7 linked regions of the Homo sapiens genome follow. The protein of the gene in region 1 purifies or fractionates together with the protein of each later gene. This does not show direct contact. Each region holds a gene or a part of one and is shown on either strand. Other genes may lie near its edges. The genes, in order: DNASE2B, PON2, FAT1, CERCAM, PPP2R5E, PPP2R5D and AMD1.

Region 1 (3,500 bases):
GGTTTAGGGACTCCATCATTGTATATTAGATAGGCTGTGTTGTTACTCTGCAGGAATATATTAGGGTTATAATGGCGTAAATCTTCCACTTACAAACGCCCACAACATTTCTACCAGCTACCCAGCCTGCAATACATTGCTTTCATTAATACACATGAGAAGTCATCTATTCCCCTAATAGGCAGCTTCCCCATCAATATGAAGCCTGTGACATGAAAGACAGGGGAAAGAAAGTCCATTTTTAACTGTGCATGATTTTTACTCATGTGACAGGAGCCCTGTGCATTGTGATCTGTGTGTGAGGGCAATGTTCCTATTTCTCTTGGTTGTTTTGGAACCAAGTTTCTGATTAAGCAACCAGTGTATAATAAAGGAGTACTGAATTATTTGTTCAGGAAATGAAGTAGGAACAACCAACCAAGGATTACATCTGAGGTTTTTTCCATTGATATTATAGGCACAGTGCAGAACTGGCTGTCAGGATCTGATTTTCTCTGCACACTTTGTGCTTCACTTCACTGCTGGGTAGTAGCGTTGTGTTTAATCAGGATCCCTCATTATCTGCTCTCCCTTCCTCCCATTATGAGAGGATTTTTCTGCAATCCATTTTTCAGTGTCACTTCACCTTTCCAACTTGATATTTTCCTGCTTAAAAAAAGTGGTGAAATTTACTGTGTGATATTGGATTTCCTCTGGTAAGGCCAAATATGAGTCAATTTTCAAACAGCCAAATCTTAGAGCCAAAATAAAGCTATTATTTCGATAGTATCTATTTTTCATGTTTTAGAAACTTGCTAATATTTGTTCTAGGTGGTTCCATTTAATTTGTGTGATGATACAACTTTAATTGAAGCCAATAATGTCAATATTAAAAAAATCTGAGTGACATAATTAAAAGCAGGAAAGGATAACCTATGTCCTTAAAAAAGGCCCTTGCTTTTTTCTTAGAAAACAAATTCAATGAAGAAGCCTCTCACAGTTGCTTAATTATATGATGTGATAAAATTTTTTTTTCAATGCACAACATAGTCTGTTGGAGCATTCTTGTCTACTGTGCTTAGGAATGCCCCGAAAAGTAAGCTGTTTTCTTACCTTCATTTTCCATAATTGATCATAGCTACTGAATGGCATTCATATCATCATTTGGAGAACTCTGAAGAGTTAGTTACTCTGTGAACCTGCATTGAATGTGGTAAGGAGGCCATTTGTGTGCCTTTGGGGTACAACATGGAGGAATTCTGGGATGATCCAGTGAGGAATTTATTTTTTATGATAAATGAAGTTTATTGTTCTAACTGAGTGTAACTGCCAGCTGAGGTTAAGTGGATTGTAGCCTTAGTTGGAAGAGAGGCTATTGATAAAGGGAAAAGATCATGGACTTAAGAGTAGGTAGATGTAGGCATGTGCCTTTGAATAGCTTTATTCCTTTAACACATATGTTCAGTATTGTTTTGACTATTGAGTGTTGAACAAGAGGGGTACAGTCTCTGCCCCCTGTCTAGCAGAAAATATAGTCACACAAGTGCAGGCAATATAGTTTGATAAATGTTTATGAAGGTACACGGAAGATTCTTATTTGTAAAGGCAAGAGAAGGGAAACAATTCCAAATGTAACCCAGCTATTGGCCTTGGTCACCTTCACATTTGAGATTTAAACCAGTTGGTCTAATCTTGCATTTCACTCTCTGTCAGAGGTTCAATTCCAGGTCAGGGGGTGGAGGAGTAATATTCTCACAGTCACTTCTGGCACATAATTCCAGCTTCCAAAGAACACTGAGTCATACCTGGATATCACCAACTGCTGTTGCTCTCTTCTTTTGGCTCTATGCCAATCAGGCATGGAAATCAGTCCCTTTCCTGTCATTTTCCCCCCAGAACCAATCACTCAAGACATTGCATGTGGCAGGTTTTACTAAAGGTAAGAAATATTGAATGGTTTTACATCACCATAAGGCCTTACCCCAGTCTTTCTCCATGTTTCTTATGCTTTTTAATCCCTGGCTTCTTTCTGTCCCTTTTTTGTTTAGCAGAGCAGTTTAACTGTGTCTCCCTGCTAGGGTGTGGGGCTACCTTTGCACCTTCAAAGATCATTATTGTATTCCGGCAAGTGAAGGCCTATCTACTCCAACTAAGGCAAATGATAGAGGCTTTACAATGTTGCTCTTTCCTTCTTCCTCCCCTAGCAGTCTCGTTGATGTGGAAAGGAACAATGTAGGCATTATTTTCCCACTAATAGATATGCTTCTGGTCCCCATCCCCAACCTGGAAAGCAGAAGCAGCTGCAGGCGTTTTCATTTTATATAATACGGTTGGCCCTTGGGTTTGAACTGCATGGGTCTATATGTATGCAGGCCTTTAAAAACATATGTTGGAAAATTTAGGGGGAGATTTTTGACAATTTGAAAAAAAAAACTCACAGATGAACCACATAGCCTAGAAATATTTTTAAAAATTAAGAAAAAGTTAGATACATTATGAATGCATACAATATATGTAGATACTAGTCTATTTTTTCATTTGCTGCCCTAAACTATGCACAAATCTATTATAAAAAGTTAAAATTCATCAAAATTTACATATACAAACATAGACCAAACATGGTGCCATTCACAGTCAAGAAATATAAACAAACATAAATATGCAGTACTAAGTCATAACTGCATTAAATTAACTGTAGTAATACTGTACTACTGTAATAATTTTATAGCCACCTTTTGTCACCATTGAGGTGAGCTCAAGTCTTGTGAATATCTGCTGAAAATGCCACATGACACTAACAACCTCCACGTGAGCAGTTCTCTCCAGTAAATTGCATACTGTAGTCAAAAGTGATCTCTCACAGCTCTTGCATATTTTTCATCATGTTTGGGGCAATATCAGAAACCTTGAATAAAACCGTAGGACCTATACTGAGTGCCACTGCTGATGCTGGAAATGCTTCTAACAAGCAAAGACAAGTCATGACATTATAAGAAGATGTTGAATTGCTTGATATGTACTGCGGATTGAGGTCTGCAGCTTCAGTTGCCTGCCATTTCAAGTTAAGTGAATCCAGCATAAGAGCCATTGTGAAAAAAGAAAAGGAAATTTGTGAAGCCCTCACTGCAGCTATGCCAGTAGGCATGAAAACCTTGCACTTTTTACAAAATACTTTTATAGCTCATACTTAAAATTAAAATGCAGCTTTTATATGGGTGCAAGATTGCTATAAGAAAGGAATACTATAGACTCTAATATGATTGGAGAAAAAGTGAAGTCACTATATGACAAAGCAGAAGGAAGGTAGATCATCTAAAGCTGGAGAATTTAATACCAGCAAAGGATGGTTTGACAATTTTAGAAAGAGGTTTGGCCTAAAAAAAAAAAAATTAAGATAACAGGAGAAGCAGCTTTTGCTGACCAAGAGGCAGCAGATGAATTCCCAGATGCCATCAAGAAAATCATTGAGGGGAAATAATTTCTTCCTGAGCAGGTTTTTAATGCAGATGAAAATTCCTTAT
Region 2 (3,500 bases), on another chromosome or scaffold:
TCCAGCTGCAATCAAGAAGAGCCCTCTCAGAACTGGTCACTCAGCAAAAGCCAGATGGCATTAGTAAAAGATGTTGGGCAAGGGTGGGAGTTTGGGCCAGTGATCTCTTAGGTTACTTTTGCTGCTGAGTTAATAATTGTCACATTATTAAACAGCCCTTGGCCCTGGGAAGCCCACCTTCTGTGAATACAAGTCTCAGAGTAGACAATAGGGCACAACCAGCCATGTTACATGACAGACTGCCAAGTGCATTCCTCTTACAACTCACTGGGATGGAGCGCTCCTCAGAGAAAAACAAGCCCAGCAACATTTGTATTCTGAACAGGCATCTGTCTATGTTTGTGACCTTTATGTTGTGATGTGTGTGAGCTGCTGTCTGGAATTGGAAAGAATGAGGAAATATGTCACCTATGGCCCCTCTTGTGAAGTGTTAAATGCCTCTGAGGCACTTCAAAAGGCAACAGAGCGGAGAGGATGAGTGATTAGAAGCACATTTGGGATACATTTTTAGATCTAATTAGAATTGTCCTTTTTTTTTTCTTTTTTGCTTTTGCCCTGTGGTTAGCACACACCATATGAACGTTTGTCGAATGCTATGTTAGTGATGCATAATGGTTAATAATAACTTTTGGTTATATATCTTTAACAACAGTTGCTTATTCACAGGTCTTTGATAAGAAGAAATAACAATGTGCTGGACACACATTTCTATACAGGCAAAAGTGACTTTTTATGATAGAGAGGGCTGTTTCTTATTTTCTGTTTTGAAAACAGTAGTAGCTATGCACTTGAGGCCAACTAATCCCTCTAAGAGGTGAACCTTCCTTCCCCCTTGCCCTTGATTCCCATCAACACACACATACATATGCACACACTACCGTGCTTCAGTCACCATCACTGGAAGTGAACTATGTGCAACTTTTGGGTGCTTTATATATATCATATCATATTGTGTCTGCTTTAATAAATCATAGTTATTGACTACATATCATACAGGATGTGTGCCTTCTGTGGGTCAGAAAATAAGTTCACTATTTAGTCCTTTTCAAAAATTCCTTCCCGATCTATCTTATAGACAGAAACTAAGCTTTTATACACCCAAGATTTGGCAGATTAACATCTGCATATTAAAATGTCAAGAGCTAGTTAACTTTATTTGAGGCTTAAAAGTTAAAAAATCTGATTTTCTAAATGTCTGGCCTTCAAAATTTGAGTGGACTGTCTTTCTCAAGATAACTAACAATTTTATGCACTTGGCAGTCAAGACCTTTACAATAACTGCTGCTTGGGAGATTGAGGGGAAAAAAGCATTAAAGTTTGTGGCCCTTATAATCAAGTACTTTACAGTCTACTGATGGGAGAAAAGGAAAACAAAACAAAACAAAAAACCACTGTGAGATATAGATATGTCTTTTCTTTCTCTAGCAGATAAGTACCTGAGGCTCAAGGAGGTTAAGCAACTTTTGCAAATTCACTTTCCAATATAGTGTCTTTTCCCAGGGTGACTAATGTATATACTTGATGAGTGAACCAGAAAAGTAGGAAATAATATGTTACATATGGGATGCTCTATTGGGTATAGTAAAGGATGCGTTGCTGTTATAAAATTATAGTCACTTAGAAAAGAGATGTTTATTTTTATTTTTCTCTCATCAGTCTTAAGGTAAGTGAATGGCCTAGGGTAGTTAGGTGACTGTGTTCCATATGGTCATTCAGGGGCAAATGCTGATGAAGCAACACAGCTGTCTTCATCTAAGACTAGAACTCTGCTTGTTGCCATTTCCCAGCAGGAAGGGGTTGAAAGAAAATTTATGTAGATTTTTTTTTCTACCCAGTAGTTGCATATATATTGTATTCTCACATCCTATTGACCCAAACTTAGACATATGGCCACATCTGTCAGCCAGAAAGGGTGGGCAATGTTATCTATAGCTGTGTTGCTACGTGCCTATTGCTAAAAAGGCTAAAAAGGAAGAAGGGGAACATGGATGCTGGTGAACACTTGGCCACCTCTGACACAGATAATTGCTAAAGTAATAAGAAGAGATGGAAATTAAATGTGCTAAGCTAGGAGACTTTCTAAAGAAAGGGTTTGTCATGCTACGCTGTGCCATTCATGTGTTTTTTTGCTCATGCTGTTCCTTGTGCCTGGAAATTCTCCCCCTAATTCCCCTGAGCAGTGGATGCAGTGGATACCCTCCCCAGATCCCCCCCAACTTCCCTGAGTGTTGGCTACCAAAAGCTCTGAGTGCACCCAGGGAGCTAAGTCCTCCTGCCCACAGGCAATAATGGACTGACACGGGGTAGACTTAAAGAAATAAGAGGCACATCAATCAATTGAAATGTGTGGGACCTTACCTGGACTCTGAATTAAACAAACTGTAATTTTTTAAAGCTACACCTTTTAAACATGATTGGCTATTTGAACACTAACTAGATATTTGATGATATTGAGGAATTATTGTGAATTTTTAGTGTAGTAATGATATTGTGGTTTGTATAAATATATTTAGGGATAATATGATGCCTCAGATTTGCTTTAAAATAACACAGGATGAGGATAAGTGGTAGGACTGCAAGGGAAACAAGACTGGCCATGAGCTGATAACTGTTGAAGGTGGGTACTGGGTATATAAGGGCTCACCACACCATTCTCTTGATTTGTGTCTATTTCCCATAATAAAAAGTTTAAAGAGAGAGAACCGATGAAGGGGAGGGAGAGAGTCAAGCACACAATAAGAGTGACAAACAGTGCCAAATCAGCCCACAGTATTAAGTTTTCACATATTTACATAAATATCACCTGGAATGCAATATTGAAATTAATGTATATCACTAGAATAAAAAAAGTAAAGATTTAATAAATTTGTTTTGAAATAAAATAAGTTGAAATACGAAAAAGACAGAAAAGGTTTTGAAAGAGGTTTTAAAGAAAAGTGCAGGATATTCATTGGTAAAGATGTTGGTGAGAGGCTTGGAAGCAAAACTTCAGGGGAAAAAGACAACATATGGAATTGACCACAATTGAATTTACAAGTGAAGTGGCTTTACAGAGGAATCAGGGGATGTTTCTGAGAGAGGAAATTCATTAAATTCTAACTTGAATATTTTCTGTTTGCCTTTAAGTCAGAGCAAAGGCTTTGAGTCCCAGCTTCCCAGTTTGTGACCTTGAGCAATTGCTTAACTTTTCCAAAGCCTCCAATAGTCTTCACTCTAAAATAAAAGATAATCATATGAGATATTGTATGCAGGGTATTTACAAGGAGCCTGGTACTTGGTGTACCTAATGTATGTTAGTTATTATTATTAAATTAGAGGAGCAAAAATTTCTCTAGCATTGACTGCTCCTGACATAATCACACCGAAGAGGGGATACACGATGATAAAACCTTCCTGCAGTAGTGGCTATAGAAATGATGACGGGGAGAAGATCTGGAAAATATTCCAAAGAAGGCTACAGATAGATACATTTTTTCCATTGGAATTAGGCAATGGAGTTA
Region 3 (3,500 bases), on another chromosome or scaffold:
CCCATCCAACATCTCGCCATCTCTCAATGTCTAAAAAACATGGTCAACTGTATGTCTCATTACTTTAGCAAACTGGAATTGGAACTCAACACGGAACTCCTCTAAAACCAGCCCCCGGCTCAGACTCCTCTTTGCCACGGCCTTGGTCGCTCCCCCTACTCATGTAGAAAGTCGGGCTCGATGGCATGCTGGCTGGCTGTCACACCAGATGGTCTTCCTCGGTGGTGGCTTTGGTCCTTTCACTCCTTCCCCACCTCTGCCTTTCCAGGGCCCCCTTGCATCCACTCCTCCCTGTCTAAATAATGGGCACGATGCTTCCAAACTAAGCTTAAGAACTCGTCTCATGTCATCTCTACCTTACCGATATAAAAGGCTCCAAAGTCCCTATTTTCTCTAGGATCGAGTTCAAATCCCTTGGAACGACCGCCACTGCCCACTGTAATCCAGTTCACCCTTTTCCAAGACTCTCAGTGCAGACTCCCCACTTCTGGCAAACTCAGTGGCTACTCCCACAATCCCTCCTCACACTCCATGGCCCCTCCCCACCCACTCCTGACGACCCACTTACTGCCCCCCGAAGCTGAGCCAGCCCTTTCTCTGGGCAGCCCTTCTCACCCTCTGGCCCCAGGGACCACCCCTGCTCGAGCCACATGCCCTCATCTAACCTTGGAGGGAGCAGCCCTTCCTACGTCTACTTTTAGTTCCCACTGAATGGTGAGCCGCGCAGATGCAGGAAGCACGCTGTCCACCTCTGAGCTTCTCCAGCGTGCAGAAGAGCAGATGCCCCCAAAACAGTGTCTCACGGCACGTCGGCACTTTGTTTCCCGTCAGATCCTTCCCCCAAAACAGCTGTATCCCCATATTAAGAGAATCCCCTCATGAAAAGGTTACAGAGCATTTTCAGTGTTGGATGCAACTGGAGTCCTGTCCGTAATTTAGTTTTCTAGAATGAGGCTTTTGATTTATTGAGCATTCCCGCAAATAGTTCTGAAGCTTTTCCAAGTCTTACCCCATTTAACACCTCTGCTTAATCAGTAAGTGATCATAAAACACATGTGAATTACACCACAGCGCCAAATGATGGTCCCATTGAAAGAATTAAGAAATTGAAATTCATAACACACAAATGTAAGGGAAGAGCTGCTTACCTTTTCACAAACTGGACTGTTGTCATTTGCATCCAGAACTTTCACTTCAACTATCGCTTTTGATGAGAAGGTGCCATCAGTTGCCGTGATAGTAAGAAGGTAATTGTCCCTTTTTTCCCTGTCTAGAGGTTTCTTCACATATACCTTCCATTCATTCTGTATAGTTTCAACGGCAAACTGTCCTAAAGGATCCCCTCCTATTAAATCAATGGAGGAAGATAATAATCAAATTTGTTGAAAGGATAAAAATAAGTAACAGAAAAAATAAACTGTACAAAAGATGTATAATGTTATAGTTTAAAAGAATTGAGTATTAAAAGAATTAATTTGGCATATATTAGCCTTCCAATTTACAAAAACAAGGGCAGCATTAAAATGCATAAACATAGCATTAAGACTACTAATCATTTAGCCTGCATTAAAACTATAGATGTTTTTAATTATATTTATTATACACTAAGTATAAGGTTCAAAAGAATGAGTCACAAAAATCAAAAACAGTCTAATGAAACAACTGGTAGCTTTGCTCAGGTAACAAGCTTGAAATGAGGCTCAACAGATGTTATTTCTACGTATTATTTTAGATATTTTTAACTAAAATCATCCCTTAAATCCCCAATTTCCATACAATACAGATCTTATACTTTATGCTTCTAAAAATCATTTTAAATTAATTAAACCGTTTGGTATGAATTTTTTTTACCTGTTATGAAATATGTAACTTGTCTGTTGATCTCTTCAGAATCAGCATCCGTGGTACTTAAGATGGCAATCACCCCACCTTGGGGGTCATCCTCACTCACAGTCCCTTTATAGATCTCGGCCGTGAATCGTGGTGGACTATCGTTGACATCGGTGACGGTAACATCCACAATGGCTGTGGAGGATAGCTGGATCTTTTCACCATGATCTGATGCAACCACTTTAATCTGGTAATTGTCTCTCTTTTCATGGTCAAGTTCCTTTAAAGTTGTAATCCAGCCTGTTTCCATGTTAATGGCAAAGGATTCAATGACTTCCACACTTTGTGACTGATCCAGGCTATACATAACTTGGCCGTTGGTTCCTGAGTCAGCATCAGATGCCCTGATCTGAATTACTCTACTTCCCCCTGGCAGGTTTTCAACAATGAATGCCTCATATGGACTAGATTCAAAGACCGGGCTGTTGTCATTTGCATCTTTCACTTGGATACTAACATCTACAGAAGCCACCATCTCATGGTCATCTTGAGTGCACCTGGCCAGTATGGAAAACTGATACCACTTAGTTGTCTCATGATCAAGACTCTTCTCCAACTTCAGTCTCCCGCTCTGTCTGTCAATCACAAAGGACTCATCCCTATTGCTTTCTGGAGTATTCCCTTTGACCAGGCTGTAAAGAACAGTCCCACTATGTTCTGCTCGGATGAGATCTATCTCTGTTCCAATAGGCACGTCCTCTGACACTGTAAAGGTATAGAAAGGTTCTGAAAATTTTGGAAGCTGCATTTCCGGTGGAAGGATTTTAACATAGACAAGAACAACAGATTCTTTTGATGGAGACCCATTATCCACAGCTCTAACAAAGAAAGTGAAGAATTCATTTTCCAAGCCAATGAGGCTCTCCTTTGTAGTGATTACGCCGGACAGTTTGTTAATTTCCAAATTCTCTTTTACACTTTCAGAGTCTGCTTCAATGGCATAGGTGATGTCGGCATTGGAGCCCTCATCGGCATCACTTGCAAGAACTTTAACGACTGAAGTCCCTTTAGCAGCACTGGACCCGATATTCACTTCGTATTTGGTTGCTCGAAATTGTGGTGCATTGTCATTGTCATCTGTAAGGATGACATTCACGGTGCAGAAAGCAACTTTTCCTCCAGCATCCTTAGCCATTAAACGGACTGAGATCACTTTCTCCGCCGGGGTTTCTCGATCAAGTTTTTCCAAAGTAAATATCTGTCCTCTCTCATTTATGTAAAATCTGTCTTTGGCAAAGTCATTTACAATATGGTAAGTAACGTGACCATAAATACCAGAATCCCCATCCGTAGTTTTCACCTCCATCACCAGGGTATGTAGGGGAGCGTTTTCAGCTAGTTCCACTTCATATTCGTTCTGAAGGAAAGCAGGACTGTGCAAATTGCCTCCAATTACAGTTACATGAACCTGGGTGGAACTTCTAAAAACTCCATCAGACACTGACAGGTTAAGACTGTAAAATGGCTTCAGGGCGTGCCGGTGCAGGTTTGAGAGGGTGATAATCCCTGTTGCACTGTCAATGACAAAATGTTTATGATCATTGCCAGACAGAATGGAATACTGCAACTTGTCTATGTCTGAACTGTCTGCATCATAGGCTTTTACACAG
Region 4 (3,500 bases), on another chromosome or scaffold:
CCTGCCTGGGCTTCCCAAAGTGCTGGGATTACAGGCGTGAGCTACTGTGCCCCGCCTAGGTTAGCTTTTTAATTGGCACTGTGTGCCTGCCCCTGAGGATAATTATAATAAAGGTAACAAATATTGGCCGGGTGCAGTGGCTCACGCCTGTAATCCCAGCACTTTGGATGGCCTAGGGTGGGTGGATCACTTCAGGCCAGGAGTTCGAGACCATCCTGGCCAACATGGCGAAACTCCGTCTCTACTAAAAATACAAAAATTAGCTGGATGTGGTGGTGCACACCTGTATTCCCAGCTACTCAGGAGGCTGAGGCAGGAGAATTGCTCAAACCTGGGAGACAGAGGTTGTAATGAGCCAAGATCGCACCATTGCACTCCAGCCTCGGTGACAGAGCAGGACTCCATCTCAAAAAAAAAAAAAAGGTAACAAATATTGAAGCCGGGGGAAGGCCACTCTGGCTGCCAGGTGAAAGACATCGTGGAGAGGAGCCCCAGAGGGTGTGAGGTGAAGTGGAGGGGTGTGGGGAAAAGGCGATGGCCCTTGGATCCAGGTGGGGTGGTGGGGATCAGGAGAGGTGGGGGGATTTAGGAGACAGAGCAGTGGGGCTCACTGGCACCCTGTGGCTGTGATGGGTAGGAGTTTGTCTGCTCCTGCCTCACCTTGATGCCCTGAGGGCAGGGACTCAGTCTTGCTCACTGCCGTAACCCTGGCTCCCAGCGGGTGCCCTGGACAGGTATATTGAATGAATGAACCATTTCAGTAGAAAGACCCCTTAGATATTGTGTGAGCCAAGCCCTTTCTCCCTCTGGTCCCACAGGTGGGGAAACTGAGTCCCAGAGAAGACTGACATGTTGGGTCACTGGCAGTGCTGGGCCTAGGACCTTTCAGCTGGGTTCTGAGAGCCCCACCCTCCACTGCAGCTCTCACTCAGCCTGTCTCTGCAGGGGTCTCCGTCCACGTGTGCAATGAGCACCGTTATGGGTACATGAATGTGCCGGTGAAATCCCACCAGGGGCTGGAAGACGAGAGGGTCAACTTCATCCACCTGATCTTAGAAGCACTAGGTGAGGGCTGGGGAACTGTTCCACCCACCTGCTGCCGGGGCTCCCTGCCTCCCCACGGTGCCCCTTTCCCTAGGCCCTGGACGGAGCGGGCATTGGCCTTGGGGTTCCAGCTTTGTCCCTAACTCGTTCCATGACTCTGAGAAAGTCCCTTTCCCTGTTGGGCCTTAGTCTAGCATCCCTACAATGGGGGCAGGTGGATCCTGTGATCTCTGAGGTCCCGTCCTGTGGGGTGTTCTGCCAAAGGGGGCAGGAATGAGGCTGGGGGCTAGGACTTCAGGGTGACTGCTAACAGGAGTCAGTAGGGACTCGTGCTTGGGGTGTGCTTCCCTTTGCAGTGGACGGCCCCCGCATGCAGGCCTCAGCTCATGTGACTCGGCCCTCTAAGAGGCCCAGCAAGATAGGGTTTGACGAGGTAAGTCCCCCAGCCTGTGGGCTCGCTGTTAGGAGGTGGATGGGCCCTCCTCTTCCGCTCCCTTGCACTTACCGCCCACCCCCCTGCCTCCTCCAGGTCTTTGTCATCAGCCTGGCTCGCAGGCCTGACCGTCGGGAACGCATGCTCGCCTCGCTCTGGGAGATGGAGATCTCTGGGAGGGTGGTGGACGCTGTGGATGGCTGGTGAGCCTGCCTGGTGGGGGGGGCCCTGTGCGCTTGGGGAAGCAGTGTGGTCCATCTCCTAGCCCGCTAGGACTGGGAAAAGCAGACAGGTTGAATGAGTTTCCTGTCCCATGTAGTATCCAAATAGGGTCTGAGTAATATCCTCTCAGGGAGTTCCGGAGCAGACACACGTGGGAGAAGATGCCCTCCTGCTGCTCACCAGAGGAGGAGAGCACAGTGGCTGAGGCTCCAGGGCCTGGGTTCCAGCTCTACCAGTTACTGAATGTGTGACCTCCAGCCAGCTACCCCCATCTCTCAGCCCGTTTGTATAAACAGCAGATAACTGTGCCCTTCTCTTAGGGTTTTGTGAGTTTAGTGAAGTTAGCCAGGGCCGGGCACATAGTTTCCAAAGGCTTAGGTGTCTCCCTTATTATTACTCTCCATCCTGGACTTGAGCTACTGATGCGTGGGGATTAGGAAAGGCCAGCCATGTTCCCCCGAGGAACCCAGAGGCTAGGCTTCTCCAGCCACCAGGGGTCCTATGGCCCCATATGTCGGCTGCCATTTGCTTCAAGTACTCAGCTCTTTTTATTTTTTTTTTAGAGACAGCGTCTCCGTCTGTTGCCCTCCGTCTGTTGCCCAGGCTGGAGTGCGGTGCCACAAACATGGCTCACTGCTGCCTTAAACTCCTGGGCTCAAGTAATCCTCCCACCTCAGCCTTCTGAGTAACTGGGACTATAGGTGTGCACTATCACATCCAGCTAATTAAAAAGAATTTTTTTTTTTTTTTGAGGCAGAGTCTCGCTCTGTCGCCCAGGCCTGGAGTGCAGTGGCGCAATCTTGGCTCACTGCAACATCCGCCTCCCAGGTTTTAAGTGATTCTCCTCCCTCACCTCCCAAGTAGCTGTGATTACAGGCTTGCATCACCACACCCGGATTAAAAAAAATGTTTTGTTTTGTTTTTTTTTCATAGAGATAGGGTCTCACTCTGTTGCCTAGGCTGGTCTTGAACTCCTGGCCTCAAGTGACCGTCCTGCCTCAGCCTCCTGAATAACGGACTACAGGCATGCACCACCATGTCCACCTAATGAAAAAAAATTTTTGACTGGGCACGGTGGCTCATGCCTGTAATCCCAGCACTCTGGGAGGTTATGGATGGATCACCTGAGGTCAGGAGTTCGAGACCAGCCTGGCCAACCAACATGGTGAAACCCCCTCTCTACTAAAAGTACAAAAATTAGCCAGGTGTGGTAGTGGGTGCCTGTAATCTCAGCTACTTGGGAGGCTGAGTCAGGAGAACTGCTGGAACCCAGGAGGCAGAGGTTGCAGTGAGCCGAGATTGTGCCATTGCACTCCAGCCTGGGCCGACAACAGTGAGACTCTGTCTCAAAAAAAATTTTTTTTTTGAGAGATGGGGTTTTTCTCTGTTGCCAAGGCTGGTCTTGAACTCCTGGCCTCAAGCAATCCTCCCACCTTGGCCTCCCAAAGCACTGGGATTACAGGTGTGAGACACCACATCCCCCGAGGTCTCTTGACCATAGGCTATCCATCCTTTGCTTGGGCCTCTGCCCAAGAAGTATCTATCATGTTCCCACATTCTTCCTAGAGTGCCTCCCCCTCAGGCAGCCCCCTACCATCCCACCCTTTCCTCAAGGGTCACCCCTGTCTTATCATATTAGGACATGTCCTAATAGTTATCCTCTCAGAACTCCCGAGGTGGCTGGGCGTGGTGGCTCATGCCTGTAATCCCAGCACTTTGGGAGGCTGAGGTGGGTGGATCACCTGAGGTCAGGAGTTCGAGACCAGCCTGGCCAACATGGTGAAACCCCATCTCTACTAAA
Region 5 (3,500 bases), on another chromosome or scaffold:
TTGTTTATCATGATATGCCCAAAGACTAGCACTGTGCTTGGCACATAATAGATATTCAACACATTTTTTGAGGAAGGAAGAAGGGGATTTTAAATAATAGAATTCCTAAATCCTTTTCTGAAACCGCCTTTGACAGCTATAATGTCTTTCATTTACAACAGCTTCTGGAGCTATTTGACAGCGAAGACCCTCGGGAACGGGACTACTTAAAAACAGTCTTACACAGAATTTATGGCAAGTTTCTTGGTCTTAGAGCATTTATCCGAAAACAGATTAACAATATTTTTCTAAGGTAAGTGGAGTGTGATGGGGGAAGAAGGAGAAGCAAAGTTGGTGTTTTTATGAGTATTAAGTAAATCTCAAATATCTGAAAACGGTGTACTGACTTCTCTTTCTCCCTTTCTGCCTGCCTTCCTTCATTCTACTGACTCTCCTGCCTCTTCCTCTACCCCCTCCCCCTCCTCTCCTCCCCCATCTTCTCCTCTCCTCCCCCATCTTCTCCTCTCCTCCCCCATCTTCTCCTCCCACCCTCCTCTTCCTCCTCTTTTCCTCTTCCTCTCCCTCCTCCCCCCACTGCTTCTTCTCTATCCCTCCTCTCCCCCTACTTTCCCCCTCCTCTTCCCTCTCCCCTGCTTTTCTCCTCCCCCTTCTCCTCCTCCCCCATCTCCTCCTCCTCTCCTCTTTTCCTCTCCTCTCTCCTCCTCCTCCTCTATCCCCTGTCCTCCTCCTTTCTCCCTCCCTCTCCTCCTCTCCTCCCCGCTCTCCTCCTCTCCTGCCCCCTCCCCCTTCTCCTCTTTTCCTCCCTCTCCTCCTCTCTTCCCCCACCTCTCCCTCCCCCATCTTCCCCCTCCCCTCTCTTCCCCCCTTCTCCTCTCCTCCCCCGTCTCTTCCCTCCTTTTCTCCCCCTCCCCCTTCTCCTCCTCTTCTCCTCCCTGTCCTCCTCTCTTCCCCCACCTCTCCCTCCCCCATCTTCCCGCTCCCCTCCTCTCTTCCCCCCTTCTCCTCTCCTCCCCGACTCCTCTCTTCCCTCCTTTTCTCCCCCTCCCCCTCCTCCTCCTCTCCTCCTCCCTCTCCTCCTCTCTTCCCCCCATCTCTCCCCCGTCTCCTCCTCTCTTCCCCCCTCCTCCTCCCTTTTCCCTCTGCTCCTCCTCCCTTCCACCCTCTCCTCCCCCCTCTTCTCCCCTCTCTCCTCCGCTCTTCCCTCCTCTCCTCCCCCTCTCTCCCCATCTTCTCCTCCCTCTCCTCTCTTCCCCCATCTCTCCCCCATCTCCTCTCTTCCCCTCTCTCCTCCTCTCTTCCCTCCTCTCCTCCTCTCTTCCCTCCTCTCCTCCTCTCTTCCCTCCTCTCCTCCTCCTCTCTTCCCTCCTCTCCTCCTCCTCTCTTCCCCCCTCCTCTCCTCCTCCTCTCTTCCCCCCTCCTCCTCCTCCTTCTCTCTTCCCCCTTGTCCTCCCTCTCCTCCTCTCTTCCCCGCTCTCCTCCTCCTCCTCCTCTTCTCCTCCTCCTCCCCCTTCTCCTCCTCCTCCTCCTCTTTTTATCCCTTCCTTCTCCTCCTCCTCTCCTCCTTTCTCCTCCCTTTTCTCCTCTTCTCTCAGGTTTGTTTATGAAACAGAACACTTCAATGGTGTAGCTGAACTGCTGGAAATATTAGGAAGGTGAGCACGGTTTTTCTAATTGCTAATCTCAGATGAATATTATTTTAAAAATTAGGTTCAGGTGGCACCAAGAGATGCTCACCTAGTTCTCTTGCTGTATGTACATTGGGTCTCTCTCATTTGTGCCTATTAGCATATTTTCCAGCTGACTCTACAAGACACAATTTCCTGTTCCCCTTGTTCCACAAGTATGCATTGCCATTTCCACTGGAATGACTGAAAGAGCTGACAGTTCATTCATTACTAGAAAGATGGTACATCTAATTGTGGTCAGGCTAGTTACTCCAAAACATCTTATTCTCATTAGTTTTTAGGCTATCTGGTCCTTTGCCTTATCTGTTGAAAGCAAGTTTATAATAAATTGGAAAGATTGCCATTTTCAAAGGAGTTGTGTATCCAGGTATAGTCCTTGAACAGCTGCAGCCTGGAGTAGTGGAATGAATTGGAAAGAGCTGTGGTGTAAGTTTCTACACACAAGGGAGGATAATGTAGCTGGACAATATGATTACTTAATCTTTTCTCCTAATATGAAGAGAAAAAGAAGGTGGAGTCACATGGCTTTCTCTCAGTGATTTCCCTAGGCTGGGCAGAGGTTTCAGGAATGAGAAGGAATGATGTCTGGAAATGGAAAAGGTCATATTTAAGGCGGAAGCAAGCAAGGCGGGCCATTATTTGGAGAAGGAAAAGGGAGGGAAAATAAAGGGTTTTGATAAAGAGCTTTTGGAAACCATCTGACTAATTTTAGGAGCACAGGAGCCTTTGTTGGGTGACCAGAAGCAAATTTTCTTCTCTTAAATTTCCTTCCAACTTTTTGTATTCCTTGAAGTCATTAAGAAATCCTGGCTGGGTGTGGTGGCTCACGCCTATTATCCCAGCACTTTGGGAGGCCAAGGTGGGCAGATCATTTGCAGTTAAGAGTTCTAGACCAGTCTGGACAATATGGTGAAACTCCTTCTCTACTAAAAATACAAAAAAATTAGCCAGGCATGGTGGTGGGTGCCTGTAATCCCAGCTACTTGGGAGGCCTGAGGCATAGGAATAGCTTGAATCCCGGAGGCGAAGGTTGCAGTGAGCTGAGATTGGGCCACTGCACTCCAGCCTGGGCAATAGAGCAAGATGACTCTGTCTCAAAAAAAAAAAAAAAAAAAAAAAAAAGGAAATTCTGAATGCCACTGGGGTGGGTATTATGTTGTTTTGTACAAACAAACTGATTAAGTTTAATTAATATCACAAGAACAGTTTGTCTCAGTTCAACTTGTGGTAACATTGCTAATTTGTGTCTCTTTTTTCTCCCTAGTATTATCAATGGCTTTGCTTTACCTCTTAAGGCAGAACACAAACAGTTTCTGGTGAAAGTATTGATCCCTTTACACACTGTCAGGAGCTTATCACTCTTCCATGCACAGGTAGGAGGATTTTGTACAACTACTTTTAGAAGCAAAATAAAAAGTTTGCAAACTCGTTTTTTTGATATTGATATAACCTTCATTTTGTTTTTTTGGTTTTTGTTTTTTGAGACGGAGTCTTGCTCTGCCGCCCAGGCTGGAGTGCAGTGGGACAGTCTTGGCTCACTGCAGCCTCCACCTCCCGGGTTCAAGCAATTCTTCTGCCTCAGCCTCCCGAGTAGCTGTGACTACAAGCGCACGCCACCATGCCCAGCTAATTTTTGTATTTTTAGTAGAGACGGGGTTTTACCATGTTGGCCAAGATGGTCTGGGTCTTCTGACCTCATGATCCGCCCACCTTGGCCTCCCAAAGTGCTGGGATTACAGAGGTGTGAGCCACGGCGCCGGGCCTATCGCCTTCATTCCCAAAGGAAAGAGACTTACTTAAGTTTAAAATACTCCC
Region 6 (3,500 bases), on another chromosome or scaffold:
ATTATGTTTATAAAAACTATGGGCCAGGTGCAGTGAGTGGCTCATGCCTGTAATCCCAGCACTTTGGCCAAGGTGGGTGTATCACTTGAGGTCAGGAGTTCCAGACCAGCTGGCCAGCAAGGTGAAACCCCATCTCTTACTAAAAATACAAAATTAGCCGGGTGTGGTGGCGGGTGCCTGTAATCCCAGCTACTCGGGAGGCTGAGGCAGGAGAATCACTTGAACCCAGGAGGTTGCAGTGAGCCAAGATTGCGCCATTGCACTCCAGCCTGGATGACAGAGTGAGACTCTGCCTCAAAAAAAAAAAAAAGAAAAGAAAACTATGTAATACATAGTTTAGTTGTAAAAAATATTTTCACGTTCATAGTAATTTGCCCAAAATGGTGGTATTTTTGGAGGAAGGGAAATGTCTGCAGAAAGGCATAAGAATGATGAGGACTTATTTTCCATGGTAGAAAGTCAATTGATAATATCTAAATCTCAAAAAAAAAAAAAAAAAAGTAGGAAAAGAATCCAATGTGAAAATCTAAAGGAATCTAATCTAAAGTAGGAAAAGAATCTAATGTGAAAATCTAAAGGAATCTAATGAGGAAAGAGCTAAGAGTTGCATTCCAACCCCAATAGTAGTAATATCTGAACAATGTATGTGTTATCATACTGATAAAATTTTGAAATAAAACAAAAGGCCTAAAACTACATAATGACAGAAAATTGCTTCCTATGCTAAGTTAAATAATGATAGTACAAGGCCAAGTGCGGTGGCTCACGCCTGTAATCCCAGCACTTTGGGAGGCCAAGGCAGGTGGATTGCCTGACCTCAGGAGTTTGAGACCAGCCTGGACAACACAGTGAAACCCTGTCTCTACTAAAATACAAAAAATTAGCCAGGCCTGGTGGTGGGTGCCTGTAGTCCCAGCTACTTGGGAGGCTGAGGCAAGAGAATTGCTCAAACCCAGGAGGCGGACGTTGCAGTGAGCTGAGCTCATGCCACTGCACTCCAGCTCCAGCCTGGGCGACAGAGCGAGACTCCATCTTCAAAAAGTAAATACACAGGCCGGGCGCGGTGGCTCACGCCTGTAATCCCAACACTTTGGGAGGCCGAGGCGGGCAGATCACGAGGTCAGGAGATCGAGACCATCCACCCCGTCTCTACTAAAAATACAAAAAATTAGTCGGGCGTGGTGGTGGGTGCCTGTAGTCCCAGCTACTCGGGAGGCTGAGGCAGGAGAATGGCGTGAACCCGGGAGGCGGAGCTTGCAGTGAGCCGAGATCACGCCACTGCACTCCAGCCTGGGAGACAGCGAGACGCCGTCTCAAAAAATAAATAAATACATACATACATACATAAAAAAAAAATACAGTACAAAACTAGATACACAAAATGAGCTCGCTCACATTAAAACACATGCACAGAACCAAAAACGAGGTTCAGAAAAGGTAAGAACAAGCCCAAGTCCACCACTGTGTTAATGACTATCTCCTGTAGTAGAATTAGATTACTTCTGCATTTCTAAATTTTCTACAAGCTGACACTGCTTTTTTTCTGCCTTACTTCCATTGTGTAGTATGATACTGCTTTTATAATGGGAGAAATGCAGCTAATTTTTAAAATTATCTCTTTTTATTTTTATTTTATTTATTTATTTTTGAGATGGAGTCTCGCTCTGTCATCCAGGCTGGAGTGCAGTGGCAGAATGTTGGCTCACTGCAACCTGCACCTCCCAGGTTCAAGTGATTCTCCTGCCTCAGCCTCCCGAGTAGCTGGGATTACAGGCACCCGCCACCATGCCAGCTACTTTTTGTATTTTTTGTAGAGATGGGGTTTCTCCACGTTGGCCAGGCTGGTCTTGAACTCCTGACCTAAATTAATCCACCTGCCTCGGCCTCCCAAAGTGTTGGGATTACAGGTGTGAGCCACCGTGCCCAGCCTAAAAGCTATCCCTTTTTAAAGGCATAGCTCCCAGACACAGGTGTTACAGCCCCATGAAGTCCATTTTCAGAAGTCTAAATACAGGTATTTGCAGGGCTGTCTGCCCACAGGTACTCCTGGACTGTCCAGGCAGCCCCCTGTTGGGAGAGGAAAGAAGCTAAACCACAGGACAGCCCTTGCCCCCAAACAGAGTCTAGAATAGGACTAGGCAGAGGCCATGTCCAGCTGGGTACCCTCACCACAGGGAAAGGGAAAGGTGACCTCTTGGCCTCATACCTGCCATCTCCCGCTCCTCTCCAGCTCCCATCCCAAACTCTTACTCCTTACCATAATAATAGAAGAACTTGAAATCCTCTGGGGTGGGGGAGGGAAGGAAGACAGAAATGTTATTAATTGCATCCTCTGAATTTTTTATAAAAACAATGATGTGGACTTGTCACCTATCTAGGGATGAGAGAACAGGAGAGGAGCACCGGGTCCAGCCTGTGGGTCCCGTGTATTAGACATGGCAAGGCATCTGGAGGTCTGAGGTCTCCCTTTCTACATATGGCAGATGAGTTGCACCTTGGGGTGGGGGAAGTGGTAGTAAGAGAAAAGCAGGTTGGGGGCCAGCACTTGGTGTGTATCCAGACACTCCTCTGCCTCAGGCCTCCATTTCCCTGCCTTAAGAACAACTAGGCCAGGCACGGTGGCTCACACCTGTAATCCCAACTCTTTGAGAGGCAGAGGCGGGCGGATCACGAGGTCAGGAGTTTGAGAGCAGCCTGGCCAACATGGTGAAACCCTGCCTCTACTAAAGATACAAAAAATTAGCTGGGCGTGGTGGCACGTGCCTGTAATCTCAGCTACTCGGGAGGCTGGGGCAGGAGAATCTCTTGAACTCGGGAGGCAGAGGTTGCAGTGAGCTGAGATCATGCCATTGCACCCCAGCCTGGGTGATAGGGCGAGACTCCGAATCAAAAAAAAAAAAAAAGAACAACCAAACCCTTATCTGTGGAGCTTGGTGCTCAATAACACCTTGGGCCAGACTGCCTGCCTGGGTTCAATCCTGGCTCGCCACTTATTAGCTGAGTAATATCCAGAAAGTCTGCACCTCAGTTTTCTCATCTACAAAATGGGATGACAACCATACCTACCTTATAGCACTATCGTAAGGATAGAGATGAACAGTTCCTCGCACTAAAGAAGCATTTTTTTTTTTTTTGAGACAGAGTCTGGCTCTGTCACGCACTAAAGAAGCATTTTTTTTTTTTTGAGACAGAGTCTGGCTCTGTCACCCGGCTGGAGTGCAGTGGCGCAATCTCAGCTCACTGCAACCTCTGCCTCCCGGGTTCAAGCAATTCTCCTGCCTCAGCCTCCGGAGTAGCTGAGATTACAGGTGCGTGCCACCACGCCCGGCTAATTTTTTGTCGTATTTTTAGTAGAGACGGAATTTCACCATGTTAGCCAGGCTGATCTCGATCTCCTGACCTCATGATCCGCCCGCCTCAGCCTCCCAAAGTGCTGGGATTACAGGTGTGAGCCACCGTGCCCAGCCCTAAAGAAGCATTTTATAAGAGGTACCTTCTAC
Region 7 (2,215 bases), on another chromosome or scaffold:
AGGTGTTGGCCTCAGCCTAACCCTCTAGGACTGTTCTATTAAATTGCTGCCAGAATTTTACATCCAGTTACCTCCACTTTCTAGAACATATTCTTTACTAATGTTATTGAAACCAATTTCTACTTCATACTGATGTTTTTGGAAACAGCAATTAAAGTTTTTCTTCCATGAGTTGAGTCCTTAAGAAAATGATTCCAGTTACTCATTTTGCATATTTGCTATTTTAACATTATTGGACCCTGCATTTATAGTCCTTTGATTTCTTCCCTCTCCCTGGTGTCTCCCCCAAGACCCCAAATAAAGCAATACACTGTTAACACTGTGGGTTTATATACTAATTCTATACCCCAGATGGGGAATGGGGGAGATGGTCCCTGGGCTTAATATTCTTTAAAGGGCATGGGAATTTAGCCTCTCTTTTATTGTAATGTGCTCTTTTGGAAAATAGTTGGTTAGCAGGGAAGACCCAGAGTTGTAGATTGAGATTAGGGTGTACTGGCTGAACTGTGGAAAACATACAATTCTGTGTTCCTCAGTAAATGAGATTAGCGTCTAATGAGTAGCACCCCTTTACTAACTTAGTAGTAGTATAAAATCATTTTTATTTAGTTAATTACCAGAGAGATTTAGCATAATTTTGTTCTGGATTCAGTAAATCAAGTCAGCTTGGATCATTCACCTTAACTTTTCCTTTAGCAGCCATTTCCACTAGTTTCCATTAAGTAGTGTTCTATAAACTTTGATCCAAAGCAGAATCAATGTCTTTTCCATCTCGTGACTTAAAGTTCTGTGACTGTGATGCATGTGAGTGTTCCGACTTCATCTGTTCCTCTTAACTACGGTGTTTCCCTTACCATGGCATTCATAGGATGAAATGAATGACTGCCCAGAATGAGAATTTGTCCAGATTATTCAGATAAACATCATAAAGCAGAATACATTATAAATAAGTAGAATATGAATAAATAGAATAATAAAATTCCAAAATACTCAATGGGAAATGACTAGTAATATAGGCTTTCAAGAGTTGGTACCTTTTAGCTATATTTGCAGATTCTCTGGGATTTTAAGGAACTGAGAAAACAGCAAAGTTGACTAAATTTTATATTTCTTGTCCTCTAAATATTTTGATAATTTCTGGATTGATGCAGTGATGTTTTTGTTCCTTCCGTATTTATAAATGAAACACCTTTTTTTAGTGTTTCTAAACCTAAAATCTACTTGGTTTGAAATCAAGTGGTTGGAACACTGTTTGACTTTTATTTGAAGCATGTTGTTGATTGAAAATTTCATTGAGGAAGTTTTCAATCAGTGTGATCAGTTTGATTCTGTAATGAGCACAGCACCTAATATTTTGAGGAGCTCTGTTTTGAGGACCAATGCTTAAGGTGGACTTTGTTCGTAAACAATATCCCAATAGATTTGTTGACTTGAGGTCTGGTTTGGTTTTGTTTTTGTTTTGTTTTGTTTTGTTTTGTTTCCAATAGAATTAAGAATTCTAATGTTGAAAAACTGCACAAATTTTTATGGGACAAAGCCTAGAAAAGAGAAATGTAGTTTGAATCATAATCTAAATCATCGTATGATAGAAGAGGGAAAGTTTTGGTGCCATAATTTCTCCTTTCACTGGTGTTGGACTTAAATCAGTTGAAATGTATTTCTGTACCACAATTTACGCTTCAATAAAAGTTTAATTGTCTAGTGACATTCAGAAACTTTTCTGTTGCCCTGTTTTTTAAGTAGCCTACTTGACCAAATACTACATGTCTGAAGTTTAAAATCAATACAACAATGTGTATTTATGAGTTTGGAGTTAGACAGAAGTTTAAAAGTGTTAGGTCCCAACCTTTATTATAGACTAGACTCTTAAAACATTGGTTGAGGATGATCAAACTCAAATAAGTTTCCTTATTTCATTCATGGTTATTTCTATTAAGTAGAAAAAAATTTATAACCTTGATCATTTTCTTTATTTTTTTTAATTTAGGATCTTGTTCTGTTGTCTAGGCTGGAGTGCCGTGGCTGTTAACAGGTGCGATCATAGCATACTGCTTCCTTGAACTCCTAGGCTCAAGCAGTCTTGCTGCAGCTTCCCAAGTAGCTGGGAATGCAGGGTTCTGCCATCACACTTGGCTTTGTCATTTTCTTTATTTGGCAACATTTTAGTTCCACAGTCAAATATGTAATAAGCTGAAAAATCTTATGAAAATGTATA

Evidence for each region.
Region 2: the proteins of DNASE2B (region 1) and PON2 purify together in Homo sapiens (affinity purification with mass spectrometry; 2 studies listed by BioGRID and IntAct, with this or other methods). This does not show direct contact.
Region 3: the proteins of DNASE2B (region 1) and FAT1 purify together in Homo sapiens (affinity purification with mass spectrometry, with the first as the bait; one large-scale study listed by BioGRID). This does not show direct contact.
Region 4: the proteins of DNASE2B (region 1) and CERCAM purify together in Homo sapiens (affinity purification with mass spectrometry; 2 studies listed by BioGRID and IntAct, with this or other methods). This does not show direct contact.
Region 5: the proteins of DNASE2B (region 1) and PPP2R5E purify together in Homo sapiens (affinity purification with mass spectrometry; 3 studies listed by BioGRID and IntAct, with this or other methods). This does not show direct contact.
Region 6: the proteins of DNASE2B (region 1) and PPP2R5D purify together in Homo sapiens (affinity purification with mass spectrometry; 3 studies listed by BioGRID and IntAct, with this or other methods). This does not show direct contact.
Region 7: the proteins of DNASE2B (region 1) and AMD1 purify together in Homo sapiens (affinity purification with mass spectrometry; 2 studies listed by BioGRID and IntAct, with this or other methods). This does not show direct contact.

What each region holds. Positions count from the first base shown.
Region 1 is NC_000001.11:84,404,984-84,408,483, reverse strand, and holds part of DNASE2B (deoxyribonuclease-2-beta isoform 1 precursor), read right to left. Parts: intron 215-3,500; exon of another isoform or gene 48-214; coding exon 1-47. UniProt on the Homo sapiens protein: Hydrolyzes DNA under acidic conditions. Does not require divalent cations for activity. Participates in the degradation of nuclear DNA during lens cell differentiation.
Region 2 is NC_000007.14:95,418,029-95,421,528, reverse strand, and holds part of PON2 (serum paraoxonase/arylesterase 2), read left to right. Parts: exon of another isoform or gene 1-3,213; intron 3,214-3,500. UniProt on the Homo sapiens protein: Capable of hydrolyzing lactones and a number of aromatic carboxylic acid esters. Has antioxidant activity. Is not associated with high density lipoprotein.
Region 3 is NC_000004.12:186,615,857-186,619,356, forward strand, and holds part of FAT1 (protocadherin Fat 1 isoform 1 precursor), read right to left. Parts: coding exon 1,852-3,500; intron 1,346-1,851; coding exon 1,149-1,345; intron 1-1,148.
Region 4 is NC_000009.12:128,427,357-128,430,856, forward strand, and holds part of CERCAM (inactive glycosyltransferase 25 family member 3 isoform a precursor), read left to right. Parts: intron 1-945; coding exon 946-1,065; intron 1,066-1,400; coding exon 1,401-1,477; intron 1,478-1,573; coding exon 1,574-1,680; intron 1,681-3,500. UniProt on the Homo sapiens protein: Probable cell adhesion protein involved in leukocyte transmigration across the blood-brain barrier. Does not express any beta-galactosyltransferase activity in vitro.
Region 5 is NC_000014.9:63,393,378-63,396,877, reverse strand, and holds part of PPP2R5E (serine/threonine-protein phosphatase 2A 56 kDa regulatory subunit epsilon isoform), read left to right. Parts: intron 1-161; coding exon 162-292; intron 293-1,592; coding exon 1,593-1,652; intron 1,653-2,949; coding exon 2,950-3,058; intron 3,059-3,500. UniProt on the Homo sapiens protein: The B regulatory subunit might modulate substrate selectivity and catalytic activity, and might also direct the localization of the catalytic enzyme to a particular subcellular compartment.
Region 6 is NC_000006.12:43,001,570-43,005,069, reverse strand, and holds part of PPP2R5D (serine/threonine-protein phosphatase 2A 56 kDa regulatory subunit delta isoform), read right to left. Parts: intron 1-3,500. UniProt on the Homo sapiens protein: The B regulatory subunit might modulate substrate selectivity and catalytic activity, and might also direct the localization of the catalytic enzyme to a particular subcellular compartment.
Region 7 is NC_000006.12:110,893,999-110,896,213, forward strand, and holds the end of AMD1 (S-adenosylmethionine decarboxylase proenzyme), read left to right. Parts: 3' UTR 1-1,715; downstream 1,716-2,215.